2 separate regions of the Homo sapiens genome follow, and region 2 is linked to region 1. A link means that fine-mapping ties the variant in region 1 to the expression of a gene that starts in the linked region. Tissue or cell type: whole blood. Region 1 holds a variant in brackets; the other region holds the start of a gene. All regions are shown on one strand. Distances are between the middles of the regions.

Region 1 (8,103 bases):
TATGAGCCACCACACGCCACCAGCACTTCATTTATTGACTGAAATTTAGGAATTTGTTGTTGAAAACCACCCATATCTCTGTAAAGTTTTAAAACATGATTACAAAGTATAGTGTTTGGAAAAGAATAAAAGAATCTTGGGCTCTAGACAAAAAGTCTAGATTCTAGTCTGTGTTGGCACCAACAAGGTATTCTTCAGAGTCTGGAGCCATTTCCCTCCCGGTAATATAAGACATTGACTTTTTTTTTTTTTTTTTTTTTTTTTTGAGACAGGGTCTTGCTTACTTCCCCAGTCTGGAATACAGTGGTGTGAACACAGCTCACTTAGCCTCGACTTCCAGGATTCAAGTGATCCTCCCACCTCAGTCTCTTGAGTAGCTGGGACTACAGCGCATGTCACCAGGCTTGGCTAATTTTTTGATTTTTTGTAGACAAAGGGTCTCACTATGTTGCCCAGGCTGGTCTTGAACTCCTGGGCTCAAGTGATCTGTCTGCCTCAGGCTCCCAAAGTGCTGGGATTACAAGTGTGGGTCACTGTGCTCAGCTGAACTGCTTTAAGGCTATATTTGGACTTTGAAGTCAAATGAAAATGTATATGAAGCCATGTGAATATATGAAACAGATCAAAGCTATTTACTATGGACAGAGCCCAGGGCCTCTGAGGCAACACTGAAGAACCTCCAGTGCTCTACAGAACATTCTGGAAATCCCTACACTAGATGAGCTCTTCCCGTTCTGACATCACATCACTTTCATAATAACAACCAAAAAAGTAAATTTGGTCAGGTTGAAATCCATCCAAATTCATCTTCTACTTTTTTTTTTTTTTGGCTTGGACAACAGCAAAGACGTGAGGAACTATACTGGTCCTTTGTGTTAATGCTTGTACTAGTAAAATATTTAGGTTTTAATCATGGCTGGTTTGGTGTGCTTCATTCATTCATTCAACTGTGCTAAAAACTGGGGCTATGAAGACAAGTGTGGTCTCAAACTGCTAGTCTCCTGGGGAAAAGAGGTAAACAAGCATAACACAGTATTACAGCAGTTAATGGTATCAGCAGACTCCTGGCACAGTGGGAGCAACTCAATTCTGCAGGAGGAGGGAAGGTAGAGGGATAGGAAAAGATTCACATAAATAGCAATGCTATTGACCGAGCACTTAAAATGCATCAGGCAGTGTTCTTAATCTTTTATGTAATCATTTTAGAGATGAGAACATTCAGATAAAAGATGGTTAAATAACCTGCCTACAGATTTTAAAAAAAATGATGGAGGCAAGATTTACAACCAGGACATACGACTTTAAGGCCCTACTCTTAATCACTACACCATTCTGCCTTTATATTGACAGACATGGTAGCAGTTAAGCTGAATCTTGAAGAGGTTCATATAATCAGATGACAGGGTAGAAGTCAGCAGAGAGGAGAGGAAGCAGCATGAATGAAAGGGAACAGAGGTACAAGACAGCATGGCACACGGGGAGTTTGAAGTTGTTAGGCCAGCTGGAACACAGGGTGGAGGAGAGTCTGTGGGCAGGAAAACAGGTTAGAGGCGCTACGCTTCCCTCCCCCTTTGGCAAGATCCCCATCTTTGTCTCTGCAATAACAGACCAAAAAGAAGTCTTAGAAAATGGAGTAGACGGAAGAGATGGAATAACTGGATTCCATCTCAGAATGCCATTGACCTTGGAGTCTCTCTGATCTTAGGGGATAATGGGTAAATAAAATGTATGAATTCTGCCTGAGGGCTGAAAAAAAATAGAAATAAAATAAAATGTGTGAAAGTTCCTACTGTTGACTAGATAAACGTTGGCTGAATCTGAATGTGTGGCAGATATTACACAAATTGGGGTCCTGGATAAAAAGCGTATATGAAGTACTCTTAAGGAAGGGAAAGGATAAGAACCAGACTGCAAAAATCACTTCAGTTCCTGCGCATGATGAAAGGTTTAAGTGGCTGCCTTATAAAAACTGCAGTGCTTGCTGTTAGAATAAATGAGCTGCACGAGATATCCTTAAATCAATGTAAAGTAGCTGTGGTTTGTAGTTTCTGCTGCCTGGCCAAACCAGTACCTTAACTACTCCCCTTGGCTTTGTGAGTATTGTCACTGTATAATTTCAAACAAAAAAAATCTCGAACAAGGTGTACAGAATGGGGACAGTACACCATCTGCCTGTGTACACGCCAAGAGGAAAATGTAGGAGCTGGTAACGATCCAGAAGTTTTTTTGTGCATACAAAATAGCATTTCATTTATATTTCCTTAGCACAGGATTCTAATTATGCTTTATATCCTCACAATGGTTAGCATAGGCTACAAATAATTATGCGGTTAATCAGATTCCCTGTTTGGCTTGAGCAAGCACAGCAGTCTGAACGATCTCAGACAATTTTAATAGGGAAAGGTGAGTTTTTTTCAGATGTGTTTCAGTGCTTATGGAGGGCCAGTGGCTTCTCACCATGGTGACAATCCGGTTGCTAGGCTGGGCAAGACCAAGTGTGGAAGAATGGTGCTCTGAACAGTTCTACTGAAACAAATGGCTGATGCCACTGGCAACTTTCTTCAAGTTCTGGTTAATTTCCCATGAAATAATTGCTTGGCACATATCTAAGCAGTTCCTTTATTCATTGTTTCTTTGTCTTGCCAATAGCAGAGTCAATCAATACTGAAACATACAGTTTGAACCAAGCATATGTGATGCCTACTGCACAATACACTGAGGTTAGTAACAAAGGGATGAAGGGGTACTTCACCTTCCAGGAGGTGAAAGGGAATACAAATTCACAGCAGACTTCCAGAGGCCCCAGGCCAAGCAGGTAGAAAGTTTCCATCCAATTAAAAAGAGGTTTTTCTTTTCTGAAGGAAAAAAGAGAGAAAAGTCTGATTTTAGATGAGTCATCCTGGTTTAGCAAACATTTCCTAGCTAAAGCTTCCCCATCTGCACTGTCTTGCTGTCAATTATTATAGCCAAGGCCAGAGTCAAGAGTATATTAAATTTCACATTTAGGGCCAAGTGCAGAGGCTCATGCCTGTAATCCCAGCACTTTGGGAGGCCAAGGCAGGTGGATCACCTGAGGTCAGGAGTTCTAGACTAACCTGGCCAACATGGAGAAACCCCATCTCTACTAAAAATACAAAAATTAGCCGACCAGGGTGGCACAGGCCTGTAATTCCAGCTACTTGGGAGGCTGAGGCAGGAGAACTGCTTTAACTGGGTTGCAGTGAGTCGATATGGCACCACTGCACTCTAGCCTGGGCGACAGAGTGAGACTCTGTCTCAAAAAATAAATAAAAATAAAAAATAAGTTTCACATTTAGAAAAAAATGATAATTATATACGTTATATTATCTCAACAATCTAAATTTACTCCACCATTGACCTATGCTGTTATTTAGCTCAA[G/A]CTGCTCAGAGAGAATTAGTTCTGCATTTGAAAGAGGTAAAGGGGTTGGGTGCTGTGACATTGGAATAAGAACATGAGAAACAATATAGAATTGAAGATTTAAAAAAAATTTTCTTTTTGAGATGGAGCGTTGCTCTGTCACCCAGACTGGAGTGCAGTGGTGCAATCTCAGCTTACTGCAACCTCCACCTCCTGGGTTCAAGCGATTCTCTTGCCTCAGCCTCCCAAGTAGCTGGGATTACAGGCGCCTGCCACCATGCCCAGCTAATTTTTGTATTTTCTATAGAGACAAGGTTTCACCAGATTTTTAAAATATTTTTTATTTTGGTAAAATATATATAACATGAAATTTGCTATTTGTTTAACCATTTTTAAGTATACAGTTTGATGGTATTAAGTAGATCAATAATATGCGCCCATCGCCACTATCCACCTTCAAAATATTTTCGTGACCCCAAACAGAAACTCTGGAACCATTAACAATAACTTCCCATCCCCCTGTTCCCTCAACCTCTAATCTACTTTCTGTCTCTATGTTTGTTTATTCTAGAATTTCCTATCAGTGGAACGATATGATATTTGTTCTATTCTCTCGTTTCTTTCACTTAGCATGTTTTCAAGATTCATTCATGTAGCATGTATTGGAACTTCATTCTTTTCTTTGGCTGAATAATCCACTATATGTATATATCACACTTTATCATGTATTTGTTGATGGACATTGGGTTGTTTCCATCTTTTAGCTAGTATGAATAATGCTACAATGAATACTGATGTACAAGTATCTGTTGAGTCCCTGTTTCCATTCTTTTGGGTATAGGGGTGGAATTGCTGGGTCACATGGCTATAACTGCATTTTAACATAGTTAATTATATAAGTTTTTATGGACACAGTTATGAACCATAAGCAAGCTTTAAAAAATTACAGTTGGCCGGGCATGGTGGCTCACACCTGTAATGCCAGCACTTTGGGAGGCCAAGGACGGTGGATCACCTGAGGTCAGGAGTTTGAGACCAGCCTGACCAACATGGAGAAACCCATCTCTACTAAAAATACAAAATCAGCTGGGTGTGGTGGCGCATGCTTGTAATCCTAGCTGCTAGGGAGGCTGAGGCAGGAGAATCGCTTGAACCTGGGAGGCGGAGGTTTCAGTTAGCTGAGATCGTGCCATTGCACTCCAGCCTGGGCAACAAGGGTGAAACTCCGTCTCAAAAAAAAAAAAAAAAAATTATAGTTAACATTACATACAGTTTAGAAGAGAAAAAGTTTCCATCTATAATTCTGTAGTAAAATTTGTACATAGTTGGGTGCGGTGGCTCAACGCCTGTAATCCCAGCACTTTGGGAGGCCGAGGTGGGTGGATCACCTGAGGTTGGGAGTTCAAGACCAGCCTGACCAACACAGAGAAACCCCATCTCTAATAAAAATACAAAATTAGCCGGGCACAGCAGCTCACGCCTGTACTTCCAGCACTATGGGAGGCCAAGGTAAGTGGATCACCTGACGTCAGGAGCTCGAGAGCAGCCTGGCCAACATGGTGAAACCCCACCTCTACTAAAAATATAAAAAATTAGCCAGGTGTGGTAGTGATGCATACCTATAATCTCAGCTACTCAGGAGGCTGAGGCTGGAGAATCGCTTGAACCCAGGAGGCGGAAGTTGCAGTGAGTGGAGATCGCGCCACTGCACTCCAGCCTGGGCGACAAGAGTGAAACTCCGTCTCCAAAAAAAAAAAAATTAGCTGGGCATGGTGGCGCATGCCTGTAATCCCAGTAACTTGGGAGGCTGAGGCAGGAGAATAGCTTGAACCCGGTAGGCGGAGGGTGTGGTGAGCCGAGATCACGCCATTGCCCTCCAGCCTGGGCAACAAGAGCAAAACTCCGTCTCAAAAAAACGAACAAAAAAAATTTGTACATAGTATCTTTTAGTTTTTTCCATATCTATCTGTATTTAATAGTTTTATTCATAAAGCATATTTTACATTCAGTTTTTGAGTTTTCATATAGGATTTTAATTTAAGTAGTCCTCCTCAAATACTCCCCCAAACTAAAGACACAAACTATGTTGTCTCGACTGAGTGATGGGATTGAGTGATTTCTCCCTCTATTTACCAATTTTTTTTGTAATGTTGTCATATTACTGTTATAACTTAAAAATAAAATTTAAAGAGCTTATTTGACCACTTAGGTGTAAACATTTCACAAGAGTAAGTATAATTTTAAACATTTTTTTGATTACCTGAATAAAGTCTTCAGTGACGAAATACTATATATGGTGAATAGTAACATGAGTAAGATTTTAATGGGAAGTTCTGTTAAAAGAATAGAAAAAAAAAGATAATTTAGCTGATGACAGAAAGACTTATGATGCTGAAAGTAATATAAGCACACTGACACAGCTATATAGTGCTAATAATACTTTTTAAGTTTAATTTTACATTTTTGTGACATCTAGAGATGCTGAGAATTACAGGAAATTGGAGGTTTTATTTAAGAGGATGAATGATCTCTATCCAAGAGATTTTAGAGTTGTTTAAATTAGATGTATTAATCTGTGGGCCTCGATGAAAAGGTTGTGATAGTCAAATATATTTTTCTCAGAAGACGCTGTTTACCTGGTGCAGTGAAGAGCAGAGGAAAGAGGGAATAATGTCCTGTTGTGGTCAGAATCAGAAAAATCGAAGCGTCTCCTGCTTTTCCCACAGACAAAAGGCTAAAAATAAAAATAATTTCTTAAAACAACAACTGTTATTACACTTGCAAATAGCTTAAATAAACTGCATCTCCTATTACATTAGAACTGGCTGAGGCATAGAAGAACATGCTGATTTTGGCACAAGTTCAATTTAGTTGAGAATATTAATTTTTTAGTAGGAAATTTTAAGCAATCAATAGCATGTATCAAACTGAATCAGGGGTATCGTAAAAGAATCTTGCTTCTGGCCGGGGACAGTGGCTCATGCCTTTAATCCCAGCACTTTGGGAGGCCGAGGCGGGAGGATCACCTGAGGTCAGGAATTCAAGAGCAGCCTGGCCAACATGGTGAAACCCTGTCTCTGCTAAAAATACAAAAATTAGCTGGGCATGGTGGCGGGTGCTTGTAATCCCAGCTACTCAGGAGGCTGAGGCAGGAGAATTGCTTGAACCTGGGAGGCAGAGGATGCAGTGAGCCGAGATCGCGCCACTGCACTCCAGCCTGGGCAACAGAGCGAGACTCTGTCTCAAAAAAAAAAAAAAAAGAATCTTGCTTCCCTGAGTAATTGCCTTCTCCAAAGACAGGAATGTTGTGGGATTGGGAGCTGCCTAGTGGTGGCAGTCAGGGAAACAGGACTTGGAGTTTCATTTCCAACCCTATAGCTCATCTCTTGGACAATGCCCTTCACCTGCTGGTGTTTGGTGTGAATTCAGACTAAAGACATTAAAAGTTTTTGCTTTACTTTTTAATTTGGAAACTCCAAGCTGCTAAATAAACCCAGACAAGCCACATACTGGCCTGACAAATTTGCTTAATATATGTTCAGAGCTTAAATGATTTCTCAAGATTCAAGAAAAATATAAAGAAAGAGGCTATTATTACCATTTATTTATCTATTGGGTTTCAACTATGCCTAAACTGGACACTTACATTTAAAATGGTTTTTTTAGCATGGCATAGTGAAAAGATCATAGATTCAACATCATAAGATTCAGGTCCTAACTCTAATTCTTGCGACCTGTATGACTTTGGACAAGTCACAAACATTTTGAGCCCTAGATTCTTCAGATGTTAAGACAGGGAATAAGCCTGTTTTGTTGGCTCACATCTGCAATCCCAGCACTTTGGGAGGCTGAGGTAGGAAGACTGCTTGTGCCCAGTAGTTTGAGACCAGCCTAGGCAACATGGCAAGACCCTGTCTCTACCAAAAAGTAAAAAAAAAAAAAAGAAAGGAAAAAAAAGGGAATAATACCCATTTATTTTAACTATCTTTTTTTTTTTTCTTTTTTTGAGACAGGGTCTCACTCTATTGCCCCAGGCTGGAGTGCAGTGGCGCCATCTTGGCTCACTGCAACCTTCACCTCCCAGGTTCAAAGGATCTTCATGCCTCAGCCTCCCAAGTAGCTGGGATTACAGGCATGCACCACCATGCCTGGCTAATTTTTGTATTTTTAGTAGAGATGGGATTTTGCCATGTTGGCCAGGCTGATCTCAAACTCCTGGCATCAAGTGAACCACCGCTTCAGCCTCCGAAAGTACTGGGATTGCAGATGTGAGCCACCATGCCTGGCCAATTATCTTAAAGATTATTGTGAGGCGCAAAAGAAAGAATGCAAAACAAAAACAGTTCTGGAAAATCTGAAATGTAGTACAGTATCAGGTATTATTCCAGAATAGACTAAATCCTTACTTTGACTAACAACACTTAACAAGGAACCATGGGACCTTATTTTCAGACGGGATGACACCAAAGCCCAAGTTTTTTCTTTTTTTCATTTTTGAGACAGAGTCTCCTTCGGTCACCCAGAATGGAATGCAGTGGTGCGATCTCGGCTCACTGCAACCTCTTCCTCCCGGGTTCAAGCAATTCTCCTGCCTCAGCCTCCCGAGTAGCTGGGACTACAGGCATGTGCCACTATGCCCAGCTAATTTTTTGTATTTTTAGTAGAGATGGGGTTTCACCATGTTAGCCAGGATAGTCTCGATCTCCTGACCTCGTGATCTGCCC
Region 2 (8,103 bases), 22 kb before region 1:
CACACACCTTCACTCTATATGCACAATCTTGTACCACAATTTGTCTTTTTAATGGATATGGCCATCTGGTCTGTAAACCTTTGGAGGATTGGGACCATGTTTTATATTCCTTGTAATCTACATATACTTATTCACTCAATACTACTTTTTTTTTTTTTTAAAGACAGAGTCTCAGTCTGTCGCCCAGGCTGGAGTGCAATGGCACAATCTCGGCTCACTGAAATCTCCACCTCCCAGGTTCAAGCAATTCTCCAGCCTCTGCCTCCCGAGTAGCTGGGATTACAGGCATGTGCCATCACGCCTGGCTAATTTTTGTATTTTTAGTAAAGACAGGGTTTCACCATGTTGGTCAGGCTGGTCTTGAACTCTTGACTTCAGGTGATCCACCCGCCTCAGCCTCCCAAAATGTTGGGATTACAGGCATGAGCCACCACACGTGACCTCACTCAATACTTACTGAACACCTACTATAGATATTAGACACTGAGCTAGATAAACACAATATGCATTCAGTAAATGCTGTTGAGGACAACCATTTCAACAAAGTCCTAGGACCTAAATCTTCCAAAGCAATTTAGGGAAGCTCTGGGAACTCAGGAAGTCTGATCCCTACTCCTGGGCTAAGCAGTTTATATTCATTATCTCATCCAGTCCTCAGAGATAGGTAACTTCCTCAGAATCAAATTACTAGTAGGGTGGAGGTGATGTCAAACCCCAAAGCATATGCTCTTAACTGCTATACTCTTCTGTCTCCCAGAAAGGCACAAACGGCTAAACTAACAACGAGATTAAGTGGTACATACGTCACATTTCAGCCAACCTTTACTTCCTCTAGAGCATTCTCCCTCCCAACTGTATCTCCTTTGTGCTCCTAAAGTGCTTTCTGCTCACCCACCTCTATCAAAACATGTATCTATCATACCAAGATCAGCAACAGGCTGTTTACCTGTTTGTCTCCCTGATTTCACTAGGAGCTCCATAGGGCACATAACAGAGAAACAGTTAAGTAAGGCCAGGCACAGTGGCTCACACCTATAACCCCAGCACTCTGGGAGGCCGAGGTGGCAGGATCACTTGAGGCCAGAAGTTTGAGACCAGCCTGGCCAAGATGGCAAGACCCCATCTCTACAAAAAATTTTAAAATTGGCCAGGCCTGGTGGTATGTACCTGTAGTCCCAGCTACTTGGAAGGCTAGGATAGGAGGATCGCCTGAGCCCAGGAGGTCGAGGCTGCAGTGAGCCATGAGTGCACCACTGCCCTCTAGCCTGGGTGACAGAGTGAGACCCTGTCTCAAAAAAAAAAAAAGGGTTCTGTAAATGAACAATTTACAAATATATGGTAAACTGTTTGCATAACAAGAGCTAAGGAAGGGGAACTCTGTCCAGCACCTTTTGCATGTCAGACATTTTACCTACAGAATCTCACTCAATTCTCACAACAAATATGCAAAAATTAATTATTCTTATTTTATAGATGAGGAAACTTTGGCTCTGATCGACCTGACCATGTAACTTGCCCAAAGTGACACAGCTGGAAAGCAGCAGAGCAAGTCTGTTTATTTATTTATTTATTGGAGACAAGGTCTCAACTTTGTTGCCCAGGCTGGAGTGCAGTGGTGCAATCGTGGCTCGCTGCAGCCTCAACCTCCTGGGCTCAAGTGATTCTCCTCCCTTAGCTTCCTGAGTACCTGGGACTACAAGTGCACATCACCATGCCTGGCTAATTTTTTAAATTTTTTTGTAGAGACAGGGTCTCACTATGTTGCCCAGGCTGGTCTTGAACTCCTGGCCTCAAGAGATGTTCCTGCCTTGGTCTCCCAAAGTGCTGGGATTACAGGTGTGAACCACAGTGCCTGTGCCTAGTGAGCAAGTTTGTTTAGTTCCAAAGTGGAGCTCTTTTCATTACACCAAGTGACAGTCTTGGGCAAATATGAAGTGGTGATGAAAAGGGAAAACCTCGAGTCCTCAGAGGCATAAACGGACAAAGATGACTCCTTTCTGAAGTGAGGAGTTATGTCCAAGGGAGATAGGACTTCAATACTATTTGAGCACTGGAAATGTGGGATTTGATGGGTTGGGAGCTGACCTTCAGGCATGACATACAGCTGTAAGAAGGCAAAAGAGGTACAAGTGTGGTGACTCCTAATTGCCTGAACCATTGCCTGAGCTTTTTTCCTGATTGTGCTTCTTGGCTCCAATCAACGCCTCACATTGCTGACAAAGATGACTTTTTAAAATACAGAGCTCATCACTGCACCCTTGCAGCTCTCAAAAGCTTACAAAGTTCCTGACTGCCTAGAAAATAAATTGCCATGCTCTGCTAAAATCTCCCTTGCAGTTTTATCTAAACCTGAACACTCACTCAATCATCAAACACCCTCCATTCAGAGGTCCTTGCCCCCATTAGCTCCCACTAGCCCCACGGGCCTAGAAAGCTGTCTGTCTCTCAGTCCTGCCTGATAATCAAAGTTAACTTCAAAGACCCCTCTTCCAAAGTTCCTCTCCTCTTTTCCCTCTGGAAATCCATAGAGCTTAGCAAAGCTACTGTGGTGGTTATTATCAGAATAGTCAGTGTCTCTGATAGGAAGCCAGTGACATACTACTGGGAAGTACAGCACACTGGTTTAGAGCCTCCTATTCAAACCGTGGTCCTCAGACCAGCAGCAGCAGTGTTTGAGCGCTTGTTGTTAACATCAAGTTCCTCCCCAGACCTCATGAATCAGGATCCGCTTTTTTTTTTTTTTTGAGACAGGGTCTCACTTTGTTGCACAGGTTGGAGTGCAATGGTGCAATCTCGGCTTACTGCAACCTCTGCCTTCCAGGCTCAAACGACCCTCCTGCCTCAGCCTCCCTCAGCCTGGGACCACAGGCGTGCACCACCACGCCCGGCTAACTTTTGTATTTTTTTGTAGGGACGGGTTTTCGCCCTATTGCCCATACTGGTATCGAATTCCTGAGCTCAGGCGATCCGCCCGCCACGGCCTCCCAAGGCGCTGGGATTACAGGTGTGAGCCACCTCGCGCAGCCCAGAATCCGAATTTTAACAAGACACCTATGCTATTCGTATGCACATTAAGTTTGAGAAGCACTGGTGTCCAATATCCATTCAGAGGTCAAAAAAAAAAAAAACCAAGCTCTGCTACTTAATAGCCATATGACCTTGGGCAAGCTGCTGTTAATCTGTTAGGCTCGGTTTCCTCGTTGTGAATAATACATCCCTAAAAGTGTTTTAAGGCCGAAATGCTATCAATAATGCCCACAGTGTGAGTAGTGCATGGCATGGAGTCATGGCTCATTTGCGCACACAGCACAACACGAACTGAGGAGAGTAGTTTCGGGTCCTTCACAGACTCAGTTCCTGCTTCACTGCACCTCAGTTTCTTCAAGTGCCAAATGACACTCTGGCTCTGCTTGATTCTAAAGAGCTAATGGGGCGCGGACTCCCCGGAAAGGCGAGATGGGGCCAGCTAGGCAAAAAGGCACGGAAAAGCAGAGCACCTCAGGGGGGCCTACGGCCGGGCCAGTCTGCAGCCCTACGACCCCTTCTCCTCCCAGCCGATCCCGGCCGCGCAGCACTCACCAGCCGTCGCGATCGGCCTCCGCCGGATTAGGTTATCAATCAGGCCGGAGCAGTAGCCCAAGAAGCCGATGTAGAGGAGCCGCGGGTCGGTCAGCTTGGGCGGGGGCAGGCTCCGGGCCTCATCCGGCAGAAACCGTAAGGGTTCTGGGTTCCGCCGTGCGATCATGGTGACGCCGTTTCCACTTGAGGCCTGGTCTCAGACCACGAACTACAAGGAAAACCACGACGACCACTACCCCGGCCTAAGCGGTCAGCTTTCTCCTCCTCCTCTGCGCGCCGGACTCACGGGCACGGCGCAGCGCGGTGCAGCGCCCAAACGCTTCCCGGTACGTGTTGCTGCGGGAACCCGGCACGCGAAGTTCCGGGCTACTAAGTTTCACTTTGCTCGTCCGCCCGCGCTAATTCTCTGGTGGGAGTGGGATTCACGGGCCTGGTAACGCGGGGTCGAGGAGTACCCCAAACGAGCCAAACTGGGCGAAGACTAGGAGATACTGATTTTCTTTTCTCCCAACTTCCCCAACCAGAATTGCCTCTCCCTCCCCTGCCCCTTCTGGAAAGATTTATCTTTTCATCCAATACCCACAAATGGGCATGATGCGTAGTTTTGATAAACGTAATTAATTGAAATTCCATAAAAGCTAGTTTTCGTTTTCTGAGTTTTCAGTCGTTCATTCGCATAGACACTCCCTCCAAAGCCTAAAATTAAGGTCTGGCCAGCAACAAAAGAATTTAGAGAAGCCCAGGACTGGATCGTTTTAGTCTATTGTTGAAATTCAGATTCGGAGGCAGCACCCTAAAATGTTTCACCTCTGGGTCTTCACGTCGTTACACATGGCTGAGTGAGGAGGTGTTCCCTAAAGGTTTGAGTAATGAGGCCAGGCGCCGTCACTCACGCCTGTAATCCCATCACTTTGGGAGGCTGAAGTGAGCGGATCACTTCAGGAGTTCAAGACCAGCTTGGCCAACATGGTGAAATCCCATCTCTACGAAAAATACAAAAAATTAGCTGGGCGTGGTGGCGGGTGCCTGTAGTCCCAGCTACTGGGAAGGCTGAGGCAGCATAATCGGCTGCTCGGGAAGCTGAGGGGGGAGAATCGCTTGAACCTGGGAGGTGGAGGTTGCAGTGAGCCGAGATCGCACCATTGCATTCCAGCCTGGTCAACAAGAGCGAAACTTCGTCTCAAAAAGAAAAAAAAAAAGGTTTGAGTAATGAAAGAAGGAATTTATAATTCTGTTAAGCAATTTTCCAGTCTCTGCTGTCAGGCCTCTCAGCCGAAGCTCAACCATTGTAACCCCTGTGACTTGCACATATGCGTCCAGATGGCCTGCGGGAGCCAAGAAGTCTGGGGCAGCCAAAAACCCACAAAAGAAGTAAAACAGCCACTTCCTGCCTTAACTGATTAACAAACATTCCACCATTGTGACTGGTCCCTGCCCTACCTTAACTGATCAACCATCCTTGTGACATTCTTCTTCTGGACAATAAGTCTTATGATCTCCCCATCATGTACCTTGTGACCCCCTCCCCTGCTAACAATAGATAACAACCACCTTTTACTGTAATTTTCCATTACCTACCTAAATCCTATAAAGCAACCCCTTCCCCATCTCCCTTCATTGATTCTCTTTTCGGACTCAGCCCACTTGCACCCAAGTGAATAAACAGCCTTGTTGCTCACACAAAGCCTGTTGGTGGTCTCTTCACACGGATGCATTTGACATTTGGTGCTATGACTTGGATCGGGGGACCTTCCTTGGGAGATCAATCCCCTGTCCTCCCGCTCTTTGCTCCGTGAGGAAGATCTACCTACGACCTCGGGTCCTCAGACCAGCCCAAGGAACATCTCACCAATTTTAAATCGGGTAAGTGGCCTCTTTCTACTCTCTTCTTCAACCTCTTTCACTATCCCTCAACCTCTTTCTCCTTTCAATTTCGGCACCACCCTTCAGTCTCTCCCTTCCCTTAATTTCGGTTCCTTTCCCTGTCTGGTAGAGACAGAGGAGACCCGTTTTATCTGTGGACCCAAAACTCTGGCGCTGGTCATGGACTCGGGAAGACTGTCTTCCCTTGTGTTTAGTCACTGCAGGGACGCCTGCCTGATTATTCACCCACATTTCAGAGGTGTTCGATCACTGCGGGGACACCTGTTTTGATCTTCCACCTTGGTGGCAAGTACCACTTCCCCTGGGTGGCAAGTACCACCCCCCCTCTCTCCATGTCTCAACCTCCTCCTTTCTCTAAACTTACCTTTTTACTATGGGCAACCTTCAGCCCTCCATTCCTTCTTCTTCCTCTCTTAGCCTGTGTTCTTAAAAACTTAAAACCTCTTCAACTCTCACCTGACCTAAAACCTAAGTGTCTTATTTTCTTCTGCAACACCACTTGGCCCCAATACAAACTTGATAATGGCTCTAAATGGCCAGAAAAGAGCACTTTCGATTTCTCCAGCCTACAAGATCTAGATAATTTTTGTCATAAAATGGGCAAATGGTCTGAGGTGCCCTACATCCAGGCATTTTTTACACTTCGTTCCTTCCCTAATCTCTGTTCCCAGTGCGACTTGCCGCAAATCTTCCTTCTTTCCCTCCCGCCTGTCCCTTCAGTCCCAACCTGAAGTGCCGGTGAGTCTTTTGAATATTTCTTTTCTACCGACCCATCTGACTTCTACCCTCCTCCCTAGACTGCTCCTCCTCAGGTCGCTCCCCACCAGGCTGAATCAGCTTCCAACTCTTCCTCAGCCTCCACTTCCCCACCCTACAACCCTTCTATCATCTCCCCTCCCCACACCTGGTCCAGCTTACAATTTCGTTCTGCGGCAAATACTCCCCCACCTGCCCAATAATTTCCTCTTCAAGAAGTGGCTGGAACTGAGGGCATCGTCAGAGTGCATGTACCATTTTCTCTATCAGACCTTTCCCAAATTAATCAACACTTAGGCTCCTTCTCGTCAGACCCCACCAAATATATACATGAATTCCAGTATTTAACCCAGTCTTACAATTTAACCTGGAGTGGCTTAAATGTCATCCTAATTTCTACCCTCTCCCCAGATGAATGGGAAAGAGTGTTTCCTCTAGCCTAGTCCCACACAGACACCCACTGGCATTATGAGCCAGGCCTCCAGGAAGGTATTACAGACGGTTCCCTGAGAAGATCCCCAGTGGCACTATCAGGCAGGTTCCTCAGGTATAGCTAGGTGAGATTACATGATTTCCTGCCTAGTTGAAGGGCTTAAAAAGGCAGCATACAAATCTGTTAATTATGACAAACTTAAAGAAACTACCCAAGGTAAAGATGAAGACCCAGCCCAGTTCATGGCCTGTTTGGTGGCTACCCTTAGATGCTTTATAGCCCTAGACCCTGAAGGGCCAGAAGGCTGTCTTATTCTTGATATGCATTTCATCACCCAGTCAGCTCCTGACATCAGAAAAAAGCTTCAAAAATTTGAATCTGGCCCTCAAACCCCACAACAGGAATTAATCAACCTCGCCTTCAATGTGTACAATAATAGAGAAGAGGCAGCCAAGCAGAAACACATTTCTGAGTTACAATTACTTGCCTCTGCTGTGAGACAAAACCCAGCTGCACCTCCGGCACACAAGAACTTCAAAATGCCTAAGCTGCAGTGGTCAGGCTTTCCTACAGGACCTCCTCCCTCAGGATCTTGCTTCAAGTGCCAGAAATCTGGCCAGTGGGCCAAGGAATGCCTGCAGCCCAGGATTCCTCCCAAGCCATGTTCCATCTGTGCAGTGACCCACTGGAAATCAGACCGCCCAGCTCACCCGGCAGCCACTTCCAGAGCCCAGCCCCTAAAGCTCTGGCCCAAGGGTCTCTGACTGACTCCTTACCAGACCTGCTCAGCTTAGTGGCTGAAGACTGACGCTGCCCAATCACCTTGGAAGCCCCCTGGACCATCATGGATGCCAAGCTTCGGGTAACTTTCACAGTGGAGGGTAAGTCTGTCCCCTTTTTAATCGATACAGGGGCTACCCACTCCACATTACCTTATTTTCAAGGACCTGTTTCCCTTGCCCACATAACCATTGTGGGTATTGACAGCCAGGCTTCTAAACCTCTTAAAACTCCCCAACTTTGGTGACAACTTGTACAACATTCTTTTATGCACTCCTTTTTAGTTATTCCCACCTGCTCAGTTCCCTTATTAGGTTGAGATGTTTTAACAAAATTATCCACCACCCTGACTATTCCTGGACGACAGCCACATCTCATTGCCACCCTTCTTCCCAACCCAAAGCCTCCTTCACTTCTTCCTCTTGTATCCCCCCACCTTAACCCACAAGTATGGGATACCTCTACTCCCTCCCTAGCAACCGATCACACACCCATTACTATCCTATTAAAACCTAATCACTCTTACCCCCCTCAGTGCCAGTGTCCCATCCCACAACAGACTTTAAAGGGACTAAAGCCTATTATCTCTCGTCTGCTACAGTATGGGCTTCTAAAGCCTCCAAACTCTCCTTACAATTCCCCCATTTTACCTGTCCAAAAACCGGACAAGT

Evidence for each region. PIP is the estimated chance that this variant, and not a neighbour inherited with it, causes the effect.
Region 2: it holds the start of NDUFC2, and the variant in region 1 is fine-mapped to the expression of NDUFC2 in whole blood (TOPMed, PIP above 0.99).

What each region holds. Positions count from the first base shown.
Region 1 is chr11:78,098,341-78,106,443 of GRCh38, forward strand. ALG8 (ALG8 alpha-1,3-glucosyltransferase) reads right to left here. Exons shown (of 13, transcript NM_024079.5): 11 at 6,016-6,113; 12 at 5,640-5,712; 13 at 2,606-2,855. The coding sequence ends at 2,624. Among named protein-coding and RNA genes, the nearest start is that of NDUFC2-KCTD14, 23 kb to the left of the region's middle. RefSeq lists a silencer at 6,563-6,857. The variant G/A (reference allele first, on the strand shown) is at 3,401.
Region 2 is chr11:78,076,000-78,084,102 of GRCh38, forward strand. NDUFC2 (NADH:ubiquinone oxidoreductase subunit C2) reads right to left here and starts at 3,863. Exons shown (of 3, transcript NM_004549.6): 1 at 3,580-3,863. The coding sequence starts at 3,745. NDUFC2-KCTD14 (NDUFC2-KCTD14 readthrough) reads right to left here and starts at 3,863. Exons shown (of 3, transcript NM_001203262.2): 1 at 3,580-3,863. The coding sequence starts at 3,745. It overlaps LOC105369401 (a long non-coding RNA gene), which reads left to right and starts at 5,196. Exons shown (of 3, transcript XR_950342.2): 1 at 5,196-5,442; 2 at 7,331-7,533. RefSeq lists an enhancer at 3,583-3,642 and a silencer at 3,846-4,035.